Linked DNA regions of Homo sapiens. The protein of the gene in region 1 purifies or fractionates together with the protein of each later gene. This does not show direct contact. Each region holds a gene or a part of one and is shown in the gene's direction. Other genes may lie near its edges.

Evidence for each region.
Region 2: the proteins of PDHX (region 1) and PREPL purify together in Homo sapiens (affinity purification with mass spectrometry; 2 studies listed by BioGRID and IntAct, with this or other methods). This does not show direct contact.

What each region holds. Positions count from the first base shown.
Region 1 is NC_000011.10:34,961,601-34,968,626, forward strand, and holds part of PDHX (pyruvate dehydrogenase protein X component, mitochondrial isoform 1 precursor), read left to right. Parts: intron 1-5,039; coding exon 5,040-5,214; intron 5,215-7,026.
Region 2 is NC_000002.12:44,323,470-44,330,495, reverse strand, and holds part of PREPL (prolyl endopeptidase-like), read left to right. Parts: intron 1-1,383; coding exon 1,384-1,559; intron 1,560-3,567; coding exon 3,568-3,784; intron 3,785-7,026. UniProt on the Homo sapiens protein: Serine peptidase whose precise substrate specificity remains unclear. Does not cleave peptides after a arginine or lysine residue. Regulates trans-Golgi network morphology and sorting by regulating the membrane binding of the AP-1 complex.

The sequences.
Region 1 (7,026 bases):
TTTTTTCCACTGGGTTATTTTACTCTTCATGAAAGCTTTGGCTTACTGTTGGGTGTTTATTTTATTGAAAGCAGTATATAGATTTAATTCTTAGATATCCTCATTTATGTGTATTACACTCTTACTAATTTGTTAACTGAATGTATGTGGTTCTATCACACACATACTGTGAAGTTCGTGCCACACTGCATGAGTTGGAAATCAGCTGTCCTGAGAGCTGACTGAAAGGCAACATCCCAGACCATGGGATTTTTAGTTAAAGGATTTAAAAGTTACACTTAGCTGTAAAAAATTAAAATTAAGAACCTTGGTTGCCAGTTAATCCCAGTTTTTTCCCCACACCAATCCTGATTTGTGTCTACTGTTGGTATCTTAATCTTGTTAGTCTCTACCAGTCTGTGCCTTAGTAGCACTCTCTGTAAAAATGGGAGAAAGCAACTATTTTTATAACAAAGTAGATTTGCCTTGCTCATAATTCTGAGGATTAGGAATAAGAGTCTGTATTTAATTCATTAATCTTTGAGGATTTGGTGAAATGTAAAATAATGATTGCTGCACCTTAGGGGGATCAGTTCTGCAAATTTGTGTAAGATAAACTGGAGCAGAAAAAGATGAGATAAGGAGATAAATTAATAGGCTCCTAAAGTAATCCATGTAAGAGGTAATGAATACTTGAATGTGGTTAGAAGAACTAAAAGGGAGATCCCTGATACAGACAACATTGTAAGGATAAAGTCCAGAAGCCTTTGCAGATTAAATGTGGAGTGTAGGCCAGAGTAGCAACAAGTAAGGGAATGAATTTGGATCTGGTCTAGGTGATGATAGTTTGGTCTCCATAAATAGAAATAATGGATTTGGGAAGCATTTGTTTTGGTGGAGTTAGTAATGTTTGAAGCTTATTGTCAGGACTTAGAAGCCATGTAGGTATTGGGATCAATGAGATGAAGATGTATCTCAGGAGATAGTTGGGGATTAGAGAGGTAGATTTGGTAGATAATAAAGCAATAGTTATAATTGAGATCATCAATAGGGAAACTAGAGGTTAAAATCCTTGAGTTGGAGGATACCTGGGAAATGTGGGAAAAGTCAAGGATGGTAGGATCTAAGAAAAGCCTCTTAAATTTGGTAATATGGTGTTCAGTAGTGTGACAGCAGTAAAATAAAGAAATAAAGGTTTCTTCCTTCCTTTTCTTTCCATGTGTGCTTAATACATATATGATGCGCAAATATCTTTTTTTAAACCTGAGTTGAAAGTTATAATATTAATGAAACATTTCTTAAGAACAAAATGGTATTATCTCCTGAATACCATAAGGAAGCAGTATTAAAGAGTTAGGCTTTTAGTATTATTGCCATCTTTTCTACCCTGTTACCCTTTTCTCTTCCCTGCCTTTATTCCTTAACTCTCCACGAGAAAGGCATCAGCCTTTGGTCTTCAAAATAAGAACTAGTACAAAAGATTTCATGAGAAAAATGGATCCTGAAAGCATATATTATTGAGGATTTTTGCTTTTCTATACTGCTAAAAATGCCTGCATTTTAAGTTTATCATTAAGGTGAGCTTTGGAAAAAATTTTAGCCTAATGTCGTCTTCTGCTATGGTTGAAAAATTGCAGGCTTTGGCATAGCTGTCCCCAAAATATCTTAGCACACTTTTTTATTTTTTAACGTTTTGAATTTTTTTTTCTTTAAGAGAGAGACAGGCTCTCACTCTGTCACCCAGGTTGGGGTGCTGTGGTGTATTCATAGCTCACTGCAGCTTTGAACTCCTAGGCTGAAGTGGTCCTATCACCTCAACCTCCCAAATAGTTGGGACTACAGGTGTGCCACCATGCCTGGCTAAATTTTTAAAACAGTTTTGTAGAGACGGTTTCTCACTAGGTTGCCCAGGCTGGTCTCAAGCTCTTGGCCTCAGGTGACCCTCCCACCTCAGCCTCTCGAAGTGCTGGGAATGCAGACGTGAGCCACTGTGCCCAGCCAACACACGTTCTTGACACGGTGAGGACATGCTCCATACCATGTCCACTAAAAGTCTGGGTAGAAAAATCAGTTCCAAATGCTGAAGGAAATGCCTCCAGCCCACTGTATTTGTGAAGAAAATCTTGGGTATCAGGGCTGCTATTTTAATTTTGCCTTAAAACAAGCATTGCTCAGAATACATGTTGTACCAAAGAATATAGACTTGACTTTGCTTGTACATGTGACTGTTTTAAGAAAGCAGTGTCGAGGCCACAATTAGAAGCAGAACACATTTAGTTTCTTTGCCTGCAGCCCCAATGTCTTTGGTACATCTGTGTCCTAAATCATAGTTGTAGTAATGTTTGTATTCATCACACAGCATCAAAAATTAGGTAAGTATGACAGGCAAGTGCCTAGTGTGTTTTAGTGGTATTTTCAAAATGAATTCATGTCACACCCAAATGAATTGCTCTCTCAGGGAACCCAGTAGAGAAGGTTGTACCTGAGTTAACTTCCAGAGCATCCTCTGCCTATCTGCCTATTTCTGCCAGTGGCCAGAATGAATTTGTGTGGTATATTTTTCTCCTAATTTTTATAGCTTTTAATGTCTACCTAATGCTCCAAGTTTAGTCTGATTATTTAATGTGCAGAAATCATTAAAACCATTTTCTGCCTCACAAAAAACTAAATCATTGGCTGTTACTAAACAATAATTAAGATTTATACTTCATAGGTATGTAAGTATAAAATCAGCAATAAAAAGACCAGGTGCAGTGACTCACACCTGTAATCCCAGTGCTTTGGGAGACCAAGGCTGGCGAATCACTTGAGGCCAGGAGTTTGAGACCAGTCTGGCCAACATGGTAAAACCCCATCTCTACTAAAAATATAAAAATTAGCCAGGCGTGGTGATGCACACCTGTAATCTCAGCTACTAAAGAGGCTGAGGCATGAGAATCTCTTGAACCCTGGAGGCGGTGGTTGCAGTGAGCTGAGATCGCGCCACTGCACTCCAGCCTGGGTGACAGAGTGAGACTCTTTAAAAAATAAAAAAAAAATAAAATCAGCAATACAAGTTTTTGTGAGCAAGAAGAAGCAATTTTGTTCTTGCTTCTTTATGATTAACCTACCCAAGAACCTTAATTACTACAGAGATAAAACTAAACTGCTTTTTAAAAAATAAAGTAGCAGTAATAGTTATGCTAAATATGTAATATTAGCATAACTAATATTAGCTATTAGCATAACTAATATTAGCTATTAGCATAACTAATATTAGCTAGCTATTAGCATATTATTAGCATAACTAAATATTACATATTACTAAATATGCTAATAAGTAATAGTTATGCTAAAAATGTGTCAATTTAGTGTCAGCAACCTTTTTTTTAAATAGATGTATTCGGGCATTAACGATACAGATTTTTGCACCCCAGTTAGACTGTTCCTGCTTGTGTTGATATTCTATTATTGCATAACAAGTTACAGTAAACTTACCAGCTTAAAATAATACCTGTTTGTTTTCTAACAGTTCAATAGGTTAGAAGTCCTGGCATAGCATGGCCAGGTTCTGAACTCATGGTCTCACAAGGCTGAAATCAAAGTGTTGGCCAAGGCTGGGGACTCATGTGAAGCTTGGGGTCCTCTTCCAAGCTCATGTGGTTGTTGACAGAATGCAGTTCCTTGGGACTGTAGGACTGTGGCCCTTGTTTTCTTTCTAGCTCTCAGCCAAGAACCACTGACAGCTCCCAGAGGCCACGTGCAGGGCCTTGCCATGCGTGGTCTCCATAGGCGGTTCACAACATGCATGTTTGCTTCTCCCGGGCCAGCAGTTTTATCTCTTTACTTCAAGTCTCTTCTTCCAGGAAGGCCTAATTTCTTTTAAGAGATTACCTGATATATCTGCCCTCTCCAGGGTAGTTTGCCTTTTGGTTAACTCAAATGCAACTGATTTGGAGCCTCATATATCTATAAAATGCCACCAATTTTGTCACATAATAGGACCTAATAATGGGAGTGACATCCATCATATTCACAGGCCAGATACAGTCAAGAGGGATGATATGGGGCATGTACACCAGGGGCAGGAATATTGGGGCCATCTCAGAATTCTTCCTACCATGTTGCCATAAGTAAAGGGGTCTTCTCAAATATGCTCAACAGGTGCTAGCTTTTATCTTTCATCAAATTTTTGGAAAAATAATACCAAAATATTAACTGAGAAATAATTTTTCCTTAGATTTTGTGTCATCCTGAAGTTCTTTTTAGATTATATAAAACAATTTTTTTTCTTAAATTGGAAAAAATACTTTCCAAAATACTTATTGGATATTAAAATGTTCCAAAAATTATTTTAAGAAAATATATTGCCTAATACCACTGTAACTTAGCATAGTGAGTTGAGGGCTTAGCATATTTAGTAATCTAATTATATCCTCTTACAAGACAAAAATACCTTTGTTTTACAGAGTAATACAAAGGCAAGTCTGTAACTAGTTATTTTTCATTCTAAAAGATATCATAGGTTAGATTTGTTATATTAGATTGTACTGATGGCATATTAGCAAAATTAAAAATGGTTTGATTTCCTGGTCATAAATAAGCTGATTTGCACTATAATAAACAATGAATAAACAATAAGTGAACAATGATGTAGGAAGTATCCTGGTGAAAGCCATATTTACAATAAACTTGACACTTTTTGAATGCCATGTGAATATTATTTCATGAGTATAAAGGATGAGAGTGGTTTAATTAATTGTTCATCTACCAAATAACGTCCACTGCACAGAAAAAAAGACTAATTTCCTTTTTAAAAATCACTACTTATGCCCAATTTTAATAACATTTTAATTGTTTGGCTTTTGAAAATATGCAAATATTAGAACGTGACAAATAATGGTCAGCAGACCAGGTAAGAGACAGGATTTAATTTTCTAGCTCAAATTACTGGTTTTTAATTATAACCTTGACATCTGTATATTTCTGTATCTTTTCTCCACATCTCACCTGCGTTTTCTGAAAGTTCTGTTATATTCCTTATTGCTAATTATGGTTATCTACTTTGCTCTTATTTCCAGGGATGCTCTCAAACTTGTCCAGTTGAAACAAACGGGCAAGATTACCGAGTCCAGACCAACTCCAGCCCCCACAGCCACTCCCACAGCACCTTCGCCCCTACAGGCCACAGCTGGACCATCTTATCCCCGGCCTGTGATCCCACCAGTATCAACTCCTGGACAACCCAATGCAGTGGTAGTGTTCTCTAAGTGGATTTTTATTTCTTTTTCTTGTTTTTCTTTTTTTTTTTGAGACAGAGTCTTGCACTGTCACCCAGGCTGGAGTGCAATGGCACAATCTTGGCTCACTGCAGCCTCTGCCTCCCAAGTTCAAGTGATTCTCCTGCCTTAGCTTCCTGAGTAGCTGGGATTATAGGCACGCACCACCACACCCACCTAATTTTTGTATTTTTAGTAGAGACGGGGTTTCACCATGTTGGCTAGGCTGGTCTCAAACTCCTGACTTCAGGTGATCCACCCGCCTTGGCCTCCCAAAGTGCTGGGATTACAGGTGTGAATCACCGCACCTGGCCTAGATTTTTATTTTTCAGATTCAAGTGTGAGAGAGAAAATAAGAACAATTACTATGTGTTTTAAGAGTAGATTTAAAACAGATTAGTTTTATTAATCCGTTTCAATAGTAGCTAAGTGATAAGGATAAAACACTCCAAATGCTTTGTTTTACAGATTTCCTATCAGAAACCAAAATTTGTTTGTGTGTTAACTTCCAAATAAACATTAGAACTATAATTCAATTTAAAGTTACCACAAGTTCCACAACTTCAGTAACATATATATTCTCTACAATCTCATGTTTCATGTCTTAAGTGTGATACTAATAATTAGTAGCTGACACTAGCTCCCTTTTGTGGATATGTTCTACTTTTTAACTAGGGAATTGATAATCTCACTATGAAGAACTATGTAGCTAGTCATTCTTTCCTTCTCAGATGCATGCAGTATAACAGCCCCTTTTTGTTTTCAAATTACTCCATTTTGCCTCTCTGTGCCTTTCCTATTCAGGTTATTTTCTTCCTATCAGAAGAAATGTAGGATAGCCCAGTTTATTTAAAATCGAATGGGCACTTAAAAAAATAAATAGATAAATGTGTACTCCTAGTGGAGAACTATATACCATATGATATTTTAAAAGAGTTGAAAACAGTACAACTTTCATGGGAAACAGATTTTTAAATATCCATTAATGATTAATATACTGCATACTTGAATAACCTGCTCTTTAAGGACATGCAGTTGGATAAGATACTATGTATATTGAGTGTATAGTCCACTCTTTGACTATATAATGTATATGGACTATGAAATATGTATAATTCAATCATATGTCTTTTAAAAGTAGGTTATTCAAGGCTGGGTGTGGTGGCTTACACCTGTAATCCTAGCACTTTGGGAGGCTGAGGTGGGAGGATTGCCTGCACCTAGGCATTCAAAGACCAGCCTGGGCAACATAGTGAGACCTCATCTCTACAAAAAAATTTTAAAATCAGCTGGATGTGGTAGTGTGTGCCTGTAGTCCAACTACTCAGGCGGTGGAGATTGGGGAATCACTTGAGACTGGGAGGTTGAGGCTGTAGTGAGCTATGTGCACTCCAGCCTGGGTAATAGAGGAAGACCCTATCTCAAAAAAAAAAAAAAAAAGTTATTCAAATTAAGGAGGTAAACCTTACTTTCAAATTCTTATGGTATGTAGAGAGCATTTATTCTACTTGACCAAGTACTTTGCTAACATAAAATGTTTAATTTCTTAATGATATTTGTAAAAATGAAATCAGCCGCACTTTCATTTGCTTTGTATTATCTTGAAGTGATTGTAATGAAATCCCAAAATAGAGTGAAGGACAAGAAAGGAATTAGATATAATTTAAAATCTGTCATGCTTTTTTGAGAGATCCAAGGAACAGAATGGAAAAACTACAGTGAAGTTATAGGAATATTTTATTATCTCATTCATACTTTCTATTATGAATCTGTAAGAAATAAGATACTC
Region 2 (7,026 bases), on another chromosome or scaffold:
TTACCCACTTAGTGTATTATCTTTTAGATAGGTTTTATTTGGTTTTACAAACATGGAATTAGACTAGTCTATCAAAATGTTGCAATTATTGGACCCGAGATGGAAAGAACAGTTAAGCACCATGTTCTTGGAGAGCCAAGAGGGGAGAAGGGAAGCAGCTGCTGAATGGAAGCGCTATACCTTTCCACAGGCATTTTAGTACTGCTGGCAAACCCAGATCCAGCCCATCACAGGAGTAGCTACTGTTTTACCTCTTCCTTTCAAAACTTTTCAACAAGCAACTTTTTCTGATTGTATAATTGAAGTTGGGGAAGAGTTGGGAAGTGAAAAGACCAAGAGTGTTTTATAGAAATTAATCTACATCAAGTTTTATAAAAGTGAATCTTACTAAAAGTGAAAGTTAACAATGTCATAACAACTTGGGTATTTTAAAGAAGAATGAGAGGAGAATTTCCTCCTTATTTGATTACATTTTGCTGTCTCCAGTTATTGCCCCAAAGTGAAGTTTTCAAAATGAGAATGAAAATATGAAGAGTGACTTGGATGTATTATTTATTTTCTTTATGTAAACGGTGCTATTTCATTAGTTTAAGCAGGGTGAAAACCAATTTCTTTATCTTTTTTGTGTGAAAGGTAGATCAGAATTAGTTCTTTTGTCTGTTCAGAGACTGCCTAGTTTCAATCAACTGGAACTGATGAGTTTGAGCTACATTGGGGGATGGTTACATAACCTACAAGTAACTTAGTAACCTTACAAATAATTTAACTTACTTTAACCCTACAAAGAATTTTACCGAAAAATTTTAAGACCACTTTAAATTTTTTTTAATAAAGTTAAATGGGCCTTTGAAGAGGATTGTGGTAGTTATCAGTAACATCAGTAAGATTTCAGGTCTTAATGGTTGAGAATTCCGACTACAGAGGATATAGAAAATTGAGCTGGTAAGACTTTAGTCAGCATATTTGTAGATACTCAAAAGTGAAAAATGCCAATATCTAGCTCTTAGGCATAGGAAGAGTGCTATACTAGGACTTCTAACCTTGGTAAGTATTTTGGTTTCATCTGAAAATTTAAAATTATAGTAGGTAGTGAAGAACTCTTTAAAATTACATTATTGTCATGAAAAGCTGCATTTAATAAAATGTTTTCAGGCCAGTCTTGCTGCTCTTTTCTGGTTAATACTGTAGGACAGCAAGGTAGCTGAAACCAAAAGCCATGATTTATTTTTAGAGACCATAATTCTTTTTCTTAAACAAATTTGTGCTCAACATCAGTAGGTAGCACACAAGTGGGGACAGTGCACCTCAATGTATTTTAAATTGGGATAAAACAGTTATTATAAAAGACTCTTCTTTACATACATAGTAATTCTTCATTTCTAGGATGGAAAATTAGTGCCAATGACTGTTTTCCACAAAACTGACTCTGAGGACTTGCAGAAGAAACCTCTCTTGGTACATGTATATGGAGCTTATGGAATGGATTTGAAAATGAATTTCAGGCCTGAGAGGCGGGTCCTGGTGGATGATGGATGGATATTAGCATACTGCCATGTTCGGTGAGTCAGTATATTTTACCTGGCATGTAAGTGCTAGACCATTGTGAGAGATGTCAAGAATAACAATATATATCAGGGAACAAAAGCTTATTTTTTTCATTCTTATTATTCAATTTTTGTATTCCTAAACCAGCACTGGTGAAACTTGATTCTTTAACAGATTAGTTGATCCAAAAAGCAAAAGGATAGGTTTTTAGGATTTTTGCATAGAGGTACCAGACTCTGTACTTATTTAGTAATATTATTATTTCCTTTCAGTTCTCCTGAATTCAGGTTTAAGTAGCCTCTGAATCTGAACTGTTTTCCATTTAACTTCCATTTTATTTCAGCTGTTTTCAAGACACAAATATTATTTTGTATTTCTGCTTAAAATTCTTCTCCACCTCCCCATCTCTAGAACACAGTCCAGATTCCCCAGTATAATACTCCTAATGGTCTGATGGATCTCTGTAGCGGCATTTAGCATCAGACCCTTTTTTTTTTTTTTTTTTTTTTTTTGTTTGAGACAGTTTTGCTTTGTCGCCCAGGCTGGAGTGCAGTGGCACAATCTCGGCTCACTGCAACCTCTGCCTCCCAGGTTCAAGTGATTCTCATGCTTCAGGCTCCTGAGTAGCTGGGACTACAGGCGCACACCACCACACTGTCTGAATTTTTTTTTTTTTTTTTTTGAGATAGAATCTTGCTCTGTCGCCCAGGCTGGAGTGTGCAGTGGCATGATCTTGGCCAGGGTTCAAGCGATTCTCCTGCCTCAGCCTCCTGAGTAGCTGGGATTACAGGTGCCTGCCATAACTCCTGACTAATTTTTGAAATTTTTGTAGCGATGGGGTTTCACCATGTTGGCCAGGCTGGTCTCGAACTCCTGACCTCAAGTGATCCGCCCGCCTCAGCCTCCCAAAGTGCTGGGATTACAGGCATGAGCCACCGTACCAGCCCGATTTTTTTGTATTTTAGTAGAGACAGGGTTTTCCAATGTTGCCCAGGCTGGTCTCGAACTCCTGAGCTCAAGCAGTCCGCCCGCCTCAGCCTTCCAAAATCATGTCCTTTTATTTTTTTTATTTTGTTTTGTATTTTTTTGAGATGGAGTCTCACTCTGTCTCCCAGGCTAGAGTGCAGTGGCGCAATCTCCGCTCACTGCAACCTCCGCCTCCCAGGTTCAAGTAATTCTCTTGCCTCAGCCTCCCGAGTAGTTGGGCTTATAGGCACGCACCACCACACCTGGCTAATTTTTTCTATTTTTAGGAGAGACGGGGGTTTCACCATGTTGGCCAGTCTGGTCTCAAACTCCTGACCTCAAGTGACCTGCTCACCTCAGCCTACCAAAATGCTGAGATGACAGGCTTGAGGCACTGTGTCCAGCCCCCAAAGTCATGTCTTTTAAATGACATGCTCTGTCACCTCCTTGCCCTTATACATGCTGTGTCGTATCTGTGTCTTAATGCCTTTTCTTTGCCCTCTGGAAACTCAAATTTTTCCTTCACAACTCAGTTTAGGCATCATCTCCTTAAAAGCATTTGTGTTCCTGACTCGTGTATATACCCCTCACCTGGCAGATGGATGTTCTTTCCTCTGCTCCTGTAATACCTTAAATACACTTGTATTGTAGCAATGACACCACATTGCTGGGTAAGTCGTTGTTTTCTTACCCCACAAAATTACTGTCTTCTCCACGGTAGGGGATTTTCGTTTGTTTCTACTTTTAAGGTCTGTACTTAATCCCTGATAAATGGGCAGGCACTCAAAATATATTCGTTGAATCAATTCTGGATTGTCTATATCAGGAGTTGGCAAACCTTTTTCTCTAAAGAGCTACATAGTCACATTTTAAGCTTTGCAGGCCGCGTACAGTTTCTGTTGCACATTCCTTGTTTTCACTCAACCTTTAAAAAGCAAAAACCAGTCTTAGCTCCAGGGCCACACAAAAAACAGGCCTCCAGGTGTAGTTCGCTGACCCCAGCCTACAGTATTAACTTTTTTTTTCCACTAAAACTTTTTTGCCCTTCAATTTCAGAGGTGGTGGTGAGTTAGGCCTCCAGTGGCACGCTGATGGCCGCCTAACTAAAAAACTCAATGGCCTTGCTGATTTAGAGGCTTGCATTAAGACGCTTCATGGCCAAGGCTTTTCTCAGCCAAGTCTAACAACCCTGACTGCTTTCAGTGCTGGAGGGGTGCTTGCAGGAGCATTGTGTAATTCTAATCCAGAGCTGGTGAGAGCGGTGACTTTGGAGGTGAGTACGCTCTGTCTCTACTGTTTATAGAATGGGGGAGGTGTGAAGCCATAGGCTACTCTAAGAAAAATGTTTTTGGGCTGGCACAGCGGCTCATGCCTGTAATCCCAGCACTTCGGGAAACTGAGGTGGGCAGATTGCTTACCAGGAGCTCGAGACCAGCCTGGGCAACATGGCGAGACCCTGTCTCTGCAAGAAATTAAAAAAAAAAAAAAACCTACCCAGGCTTGTTGGTAAGAGGATCTCTTAAGAGGTTGAGGCTGCAGTGGACCACTGTGCTCCAGCCTGGGCAACAGAGTGAGACATTGTCAAAAAAAAAAAAAAAAAAGGAAAGAAAAACATTTCTGTTACAGTTTTACCATAGCATAGGAGTATAACAAAGCTTTTAAGTTTTAAACTCAGAATTATAGCTTGAGGAGAACTTCTAAAGTTATTTTAATCCAACTATTAACCGTTATTCTTCTCTGATACAGTGTTCTTTATTATCTTTAAGGCTTTCCACTGAAAGATATTAATGGCTATTTCCATTGCTCATTTGTATTTGTAAGGACATTTAGAATTGGTGAAAAAGCACTGAAGCATATATGAGTCCCAGTTGAGAAAGCCAGGCAAAGCACGCTGTGACTCTGGAATGCACTGAGTCCTTTGGCTCCTGGTCACCTTGACAGGCTACTGCCCATCAACATTTCAGTCCTAGATTTATAGGCTCTTTATTTTTAGATAGTCCATTCTTAATGGTCGTTTGGGCATAGTTTTTCCGTATTTTAATTGAAATATCTTACCCTGTTCTGAAAATGATTATCTTTTCCCAGTGTCAGAAATTACGAAGTTACATTGTAGCAGTTGGTTTCACTGCTATCATTCTCCTACTTCTAGGTTACTCTGAAAAATAATGACTGAGATGGGAGAGAGTAAATTATTTTCAGGATTTTTTATTTTGAGGTTGGGGAGTTTATACTGTGGGCTTGTAAATAAGTGTTAAATAGTAGTCACCTGTAAGTCTATTTTTTAAAAACAGAAAAATGTGGAGAATAGCCTATGCACAAAGATAATGGCAGAATTATTTACAGTTTAAAGACAAAGCAACTAGATTTTGACTTTTAGAAATTTAAAAGGAAATGATGAGAAGGATATTTATGCTAGGTTGCTTATTATAGTGAAGACTAGGAGACAACCTTTTATACATGTATAAGTCAAATTCTTCTTATAAGCACCAAAAATCAACCCTAATTTAAGCAGAAAAGGGATTAAAGGGCATTAGGAAAATGTAGGTGTCTTCAGACCAGTGTTAGAGGCTTCAGAGCCAAAGGCATAGAATTGGCCCAATGAAACTATTACTGCCGCCACTGCCAAGCACAAATCACCTCACACTGCCAGTGCAACTTCTAGAGCTGGATATAGCTGTGGCACTTTTGCCAGAATAAATTATCTGTGATCACTGCTTCTTTGAATCACTAACTTTCCATGCAGAGTGTAAAGCACATGTGTCTGGTTGATAGACCCAAGTCACACATGGGTCACACAGCTACTCCCAAGCTGCAGGGAAAAATGGGAAAGAGAAGTCTAGCACTTAGTATCTCCACAGTGAGAGGCAGGCTCTAGCTGATAAGGTTGGAGGTTTTTCAAATGCAAAAAAGTTCATATGGTAGGCAGCCAAAAAGAATTACAGATGACTCACTATACTTGGTTAATGTTAATATGAGGGAAAGCTAAAAAGTATGTTAACAGAAGAAAATAAAGCTAAGTGAAAAATACAGCCTTCATTTTTGTTTTGTTGTTTTTGTGGGGTTTTTGTTTTTTTGTTTTGTTTTGTTTTGTTTTTTGAGTCAGAGTTTTGCTCTTTCACCCAGGCTGGAATGCAATGGCACACGAACACAGCTCACTACAGCCTCGACCTCTGGGGCTCAGGTGATCCTCCCACCTCAGCCTCCTGAGTATCTGGGACTACAGGCATGTGCCACCATGCCCTGCTAATTTTTGTGGTTTGTTGTTGTTTTGTAGAGATGTGGTTTTACCATGCTACCCAGGCTAGTTTCAAACTCCTGGGCTCAAGTGATTTGCCCACCTCAGCCTCCCAATGTGCTGGGATTACAGGCATGAGCCACCATGTGCGACCCAGCCTTCGTTTTATTAAATTTTGTAACACTAATTATAAGCCAATGGGTTGTTTTCTCTTCTTTCACCTTGGGTATTTTGCAGAGTTTCTTTACTTAGCGTTTTTTGCTTTTAATATAAAATGTCCAACTGGTCAAAAAGACTTTATTCCTTGTGTATTTTTTTCATTTAAAAATTTTTAATTATGGTAAAATACCATAAAATTTACCATCTCAACCATTTTTAAGTGAATAGTTCAGTAGTGGTAAGTGCACTCATAGGCTTATGCAGTCAATCTCCAGAACTCGTTTTTCATCTTAACAAAACTGAAACCCTGTACCGATTAAACAGCTCTCCATTTGCTTCTTCCCACAGCCTCTGTCTCTGTGAATTTGACTACTCAAACACCTCACATAGGTGGAGTCATACAAAATTTTTTGTGACTGGCTTATTTCACTTAGATTATATCCTTGAGGTTCATCCATATTGTAGCGTGGATCAGAATTTTATTCATTTTTAAGGCTGAATAATATTCCATGTAATATTGCATGTGTATACCACATTTTGCTTATTCGTTCTTTGGTTAATGGACACTTGAGTTGCTTCCACCTTTTGGCTGTTGTGAATATGCTGCTGTGAACATAGGTATGCAGATCTCTTTAAGACCCTGCTTTCAGTTTTGGGGATTATATGCCAGGAGTGGAATTGCTGGATCATATGGTAATCTTAAGCTTAACTCTTTGATGAACCACCATACTGTTTTCCAAAGCAGCTCCCCCATTTTACATTCCAACCACCAGTGTATCAGGATTCCGGTTTCTCCACATTACTGCCAATACTTGTTGTTGTTGTTGTTGTTTTAATATAATAACTAACTGTCCTAATTGGTATGAGACAGTAGCATTTATTGCTTTTATATAAGAAAAAATATAAATGAATAAAAGGTACTAAGCTAAAAATAAATATTGTGAAATTAGAAGATAAACCATTTCTTGTTATATGTCATTTAAGGAATCTGAAGACTTTAAAAGTAGGTTATAAATTACAGGCCCTGGTTAAGGACTGAGTATTCTAGCTCCTAGGAATCTACATGGCTTGAGTTATTTTCTCTCATATTAGTATGTATATTCATAAAATAGAATGTTTTT